Linked DNA regions of Homo sapiens: region 2 is linked to region 1. Evidence: fine-mapped expression QTL. A gene starts in region 1. The other region holds a variant in brackets. All regions are shown on one strand. Distances are between the middles of the regions.

Evidence for each region. PIP is the estimated chance that this variant, and not a neighbour inherited with it, causes the effect. A credible set is the group of variants that fine-mapping cannot tell apart.
Region 2: its variant is the best candidate, but not a certain one, in a credible set for the expression of SLC13A4 in tibial artery (GTEx, PIP 0.83).

Annotation. Positions count from the first base shown.
Region 1 is chr7:135,726,443-135,729,346 of GRCh38, reverse strand. SLC13A4 (solute carrier family 13 member 4) reads left to right here and starts at 1,161. Exons shown (of 16, transcript NM_001318192.2): 1 at 1,161-1,949. The coding sequence starts at 1,851.
Region 2 is chr7:135,702,344-135,705,247 of GRCh38, reverse strand. It overlaps SLC13A4 (solute carrier family 13 member 4), which reads left to right. Exons shown (of 16, transcript NM_001318192.2): 6 at 2,364-2,403. LOC105375521 (a long non-coding RNA gene) reads right to left here. Exons shown (of 5, transcript XR_928021.3): 4 at 1-2,904. Among named protein-coding and RNA genes, the nearest start is that of SLC13A4, 24 kb to the left of the region's middle. RefSeq lists an enhancer at 853-1,147. The variant C/G (reference allele first, on the strand shown) is at 1,434.

The sequences.
Region 1 (2,904 bases):
ATCCTACGATGGCAAGATAATTTCAAAGGGGACCTCAGCTGTCCACAGTTGCACCTGCCTTAAAAGTCAAGAAGAATTTGTTTTTTGGGTCACTTCCCTGGTCACTTTAGCCTGGGGATCATTTCCAAGTAGTATAGTTGCAGATCTTCGAACGCCATTCCTGTGTTCTGTGAATTCAAGACAACATGGGTTTTATAACCCTTTGACTCTGCTCAGCATCTCCCAGATCAAGGTAAGGTAATGTTGCCAAGAACCACTACTTACAGAATGTTTGGGCTTTTGCTTTTGCTTTTCTTCCTTGCCCCAAATCCACATGTCCGTTCTGAGAAAAGAAGCTAACAACTTCTTCCAATCTGTAAACAGGAGAAATTCCAGAGTTCAACTGCAGCTAAGACCTTGTCCCTGAACTTGTCAACTTCTTCCCTGCCCTCCCACCTCCTCCTTTCGTACCAGCCAAAGAAGGTCTTCGGTTTCCTTTTTGGAGAGCCCCAGAGAGAAGCATTTGAGCACCTACTTTAGCCAGAGAGACCACTGACATCTGGGCATGAGACTGGCATCTAGACTTTGCCAGGGAGGCAGCTATACTTCCCAAAAGATCTGGGGTCTTTCTCACGAGCTCATACCCTCTGCTGGCCTAGACCCTTTATATTCCCCCCTCGGTGCTGAGGCAAACGATCTTTGCCAGCAGGGAGGTCTGAAAGGCTTAACTTTGTACACTCTGAGGCAAATTCTCCAGAAGTAATGTTGCATTTTCTCCCTGCCACCAGGCACATTCCCTTCCCAAGGTCTAGATCAGCAGGTGGCCCTCCCAGCGAAAGCTCTGTGTCCTATGATCCGAAACAATAAAGCTGTGCTTGGGTACGTGAGATTATGTTTACGATGATGGTCATCACTCCAGCCCTAGGAAGTTTGAGAAACTGAAAAATAAGCTTAGCAGGCTGCCTAGGTTCTGCGGAATCAGCAGGCCCCCGCTGTGACCAATCAAGAGCGGCCGCGGGGAGAGAAATTGACTCATTCTTTTCAATTTGCTGATTGGCTTTGAGAAGTGGGCGGAGCTACTGTCTCTGTCCCGGCTTCCCATTGGTGGATGAAAGTTAAAGGTGGGCCTCCAGCAAGTTTTGTCCTTTGATAAAAAGGAATGTCTTGGGGACTTTTCTTTTCTGCTTTGCAGGCCCAGGCTCAAGGCAAATTATAAGTAGGGAACCAATTTGAGGGAAAGACATGTGAACAGAGTTAAGGTACCACGTCCTGGGAGCGACCAGCAGCCCCACCTGAAGTCCGCATGCAACTCTGACAAGCTCAGGTGCTTGTTTTAAGGAAAGGGGCTACTAGAGTCTTACCAACAGCGAGCCCAGGTGGGAGATGAAACAGGTACTCCCCAAAATAGGTCATCCGAGGGAGGAAAACTGATGGAGAGCACAATGTGCTCTGAGCGTTTTTAATGTTTTTAAGCTTTTAAATGATTTCTTCAAGGCCGAGCAGCAGCAGCAAAGGTGTGGCTTAAAGGATTAAGGGGGTTTCTGCTGACACCTAGAATGAAGTTACTCTATTACTAATCAAGCCGAGAGGAGGCCCACTATGCCCCCGTTTATCATCCTTTCCCAGTTCCTTTTTGCTGGTCACAAAACGATGCTCATCAATCCCACCTAAAGCAGGAGGCCAGGAGCCCAGCCTCTTGTAGAAACAGCGAGGGTATAACTGCCCTCCCGTTCTGCCCCCAAGACGAAGGAGGACTCTCGGAAGCCAAGAAAGGTTTAAGAAGTCTTTCTGGATAGAGAGCAGTGCCCAGGCAGGAAGCCTTTCGCCGGCAGAGCGGGGTCCAAGGACGAGCTGGAGAGGACAGAGGCGCGATGGGCCTGCTGCAGGGCCTGCTCCGAGTCCGGAAGCTGCTGCTGGTCGTCTGCGTCCCGCTCCTGCTGCTGCCTCTGCCCGTCCTCCACCCCAGCAGCGTGAGTACCGACCTGCGCCCACCGGGGGTCTGGGAGTCAGTGGGAGGGCAAAGAGGGGAGGTCGGTAGGGGAACATGGGGCGCTCAGGCAGTCCCTCAAAGTGGCTTGTGGTGGGTTTAAAGAAATGGAAGGATTTTTCCAGAGGAAACCAAGATATCTTCTTCCTAAAAGCTGTCATGTTCATCTCCTATCCCAGTCCCATTCCCCCAACCCCATGGCCCCCACCGGGGTCAGGACAGAGTAGGGGCCTTGGCAGAAGTGACTGATGGGTGTTGCACCAAGCAGCAGGCCAGCCTGCCCCAGCAGCGGGGGCCAGCGACACCCATGCAAACGACATGGTGCACCTGTGTTTGTCGGGAGTTCACCTGGGACCCTGGTTATCTGAGAGCCCCTGGAGACACAGAAAGAGCTCCCAATAGTGGCACTGAGGAGAAGGTTGGGGGAGGAAGAGAACCGTGGAGCCAATCCGTGGTCTGTGGTCGTGTCCTGGTGGGCTTCGATGACCACAGTTGAAGCTCTAATCCCGAAGGCGCCTATCAACTTCAGGGAATGAATGTTTAGGGAAGGAATGAAAGCAGAACTTAGCAGGCTGCCCTGCTCCCATGCACGTGGCCTTGAATTATTTGTGTCTTCTGTGTTTTCTTCTCTGTCCTCTTGAAGGACAGACAAAAAGTGACACGATAAAAAAGAGATAAGAGCCCCCAAACTCTAGCCCGTGACCTCATTCTTCACCTGGTTTGTGAGAACAGAGGAACCTCAGCTCTGGCTCAGCATCCAGCTTGCCTGTCACACCCTCCTGGTGGTCACCTGCTTCCCTTCCCTTCCCTCCGCTGTTCTCTTCCTCCTGTCTGTGGCTTGTCCCCTTCCCCCAGCTGGCACTGCCCTGGAGACTTTAGGAAAAATAAGCTAAAACAGGTTAATCACGTTTGTAGGAGGGGGAGCAATTCTTCCACTC
Region 2 (2,904 bases), 24 kb after region 1:
TAACGGAAAACCGTTCACATCTCGATGCCACTGCAGATTCTTGGAGAATCATGAAATATTTTCTAGATATTAGATAAGGTCTTGGTAGATTTGGTCTTGTTAGATATGGCAAAGAAAACTTAGGTGACAGGTAGGGGATGAGGGGACAGGAGGTGAGAGGGCCTTGTGATGATGGGAAGCAGAGCTGGAAAAGGAGAAGCAGCCTCAGACATTCCTGGAGGAAGCTCTATTAACAGCTGATTCCATTTGGAGATTCTATTTCAAAATGTGGCCCACAGGCATGCCACAATGAATAGTCCACATTTAAAAGCTGGATTTGTAATACAGCTCAGCTCTGTCATTTGCCCTTGTTGTAAAAAAGGAGAACGCACATTGGGTGAAATCAGCGTTCACAGTGGGACAGACGTGGAAGGGTGCCATCAGGAAATCGCTTTATTTTTCTCCACCACTATCTTCAATCATAGCATATTGGATTTCTTGATGACATCACCCTTGATGATATCCCAGGCAAATCCCGTAGCTCTCCTGGTTCCTTTCAGGTATTATAACAATCTCATGTTCAGACATTTGGGAGACTAGTCCAAATTCAAATCAAAACTTCAACTTCTCAGCCAAAGCTTCTCCCATACCCACCCACCCCTCACCCTAGGCCTGCAGAAGAAAGAAGGTGAAAGTAAGTCGGGGGAGGGAGTTGAGCTTCTTTCTGTCTTCCTCCACCTCCCTCTTCTCCTCCTCCCCTAACCGCACCCTCACTCTGCTGCTTCTGACTTTTCTGGGCTTAGGACAGCAGCTCTAGGGTACAGGAAAGATAAATGGGTGAGAAGGGTCTGGATGGGGGCTATTGAGGTCTGGGGTTGGTGCCCTCTCTGAGATTTCAGTCCCTGGCTCTTTCATCTGTGGGGCAACTGCCTTCAGGGTCTTTGGAGCATCCCATTATGGCGCCCTCTGCAGGGCCTCAGGCCTGATGGCAGGGCCTTGCTCTGGGATTAACACTCACGCCACCCTCCAGGGCCTGTGCTCTGGTGGTTAACTCCCCCACAACCCCTGTATTGGGGCTGCCTCTGCCTCTGGGCAGGCCTGTCCCAGGTGACCCAGGAAAAGGCCATCCTCACTGTGGCCTTTTCTCCTCCCTGTGGCCTCTCTGGCATCACCCTACTGGCTTCTTGCCTTTGCTCTTTTCCACACAAAAATGTATCCCCAAACTCCAAAAGAAAAGCCTGAGTTGTCCCTAGAACTCTAAGCATCTTTTGTGCTGGTGGGAACTGGGTCATTTGCTGGGTGTGCAGACAGCACTCTTGCGGCCACCACCTCCCATGCTACCTGAGGATCCTCGCCTACCCTCCTCACCCAGTTTGGGAAGAAGGGAAGGGAAACATCACAGCACATTCTCCTCCCAGGCTAAGAACTCACTCCAAAGAACACTTCCCTCTGCA[C/G]GCCTGTCAGCTTCTTATCCTTCCCTGACAGAGCCTGAAGAGGGACCATGGCCGCAGGACCCACATCCCGCATGTGTGTGCCCAATACGCTCTCTGTCTTCACAGTGGCTGAGCTGGTGGCTCCCACTGTCCTCGCAACTAAGACAAACTGGAAACATTCACTGATCACTCAGTGTGTCAGTTACACTGATGGCTAAGTTCTCATCTTCTTCTGTCCTCAAGGCAAAGGTTGGGGACCAGCAGGGGTGGGAGAGACTCACCCCCTGAGGTGTACTTGCTGATCAGAAGTCCTCCCCCTCCGCCACCCTCTCCCTCTCCCTTGACTTTCCCTGAGTACAATCCAGGCCCTCCCTGCTCCTGTCACCTCCGATACGCATATCACAAGTTCCCCTTTCTAGATAGTGGTCTTCCCAGAGTCAGTCAGTGAGAACATGAGAGTCAGCCAGTGAGAACATGAGAGTCAGCCAGTGAGAACATGGTCAGGGGGCATAGGCTTTCCAGAGAGACAGACTCCTGGACTCCTACCCTCCTCTGCCACTTAGCATCCCCGTGCTAAGTACTGGTGTAAATGGAGGTATGAATGCCAGGACCATAGATCTGTGATGAGGATTAACAATGTCTGGGGGTTAAAGCCCATATATGTGCACTCTGTATCTAATATCCACTCCACATCTGCTGTTAGGACGATTGTTAATATCAAAGGAAAGTGCTGCCCCTGCCCTCAGAAGGAAGCAGGCCCCTGGCCCCACTAATCCTTACAGCATCTCAGAAGGCAAGGAAGACAAGGGAGAGATTAGTCTTCTCTGGAGACTAGAAAACTGGAATCCAGAGAGTTTAAGTCCCTTACACCAAACGCCTGATGCAGGGGGACCTCCCCTCCCAAGAGTCGGCCTCACTGACGTGGCTCCTGTGTCCTCTGCTTGGTTCCAGCAGGTCCAACGCAGACCTCACCACTCTGATGCACAACGAGGTATGGCCTTGGGGTTTTTCTGTGCTTTGGAATCACTTGAAAATCCCTCAGCACTTCTTCATGGAAACCCAAGATTCAGAACCAGATTTTCAACAGCTACAGATCCACCTTAGAGTTCCTTTCAGTGAGGATTCCATTGACAAAATGTTATTATTAAAAAGGACACATTGGCTGGGCGTGGTGGCTCATGCCTGTACTCCCAGCACTTTGGGAGGCCACAGCAGGAGGACCACTTGAGGCCAGGAGTTCAAGACCAGCCTGGCCAACATGGTGAAACCCCGCCTGTACTAAAAATACAAAAATTAGCTGGGAGTGGTGATGGGCACCGGTAATCCCCACTACTTGGGAGGCTGAGGCTGGAGAATCACTTGAACCTGGGAGGCAGAGGTTGCAGTGAGCCCAGATCGTGCCACTGCACTTCAGCCTGGGCAACAGAGCGAGACCCCCATCTCAAAAAATAAAAATAAATAAAAATAAAAAGAACACATTTACAGGGGAAAG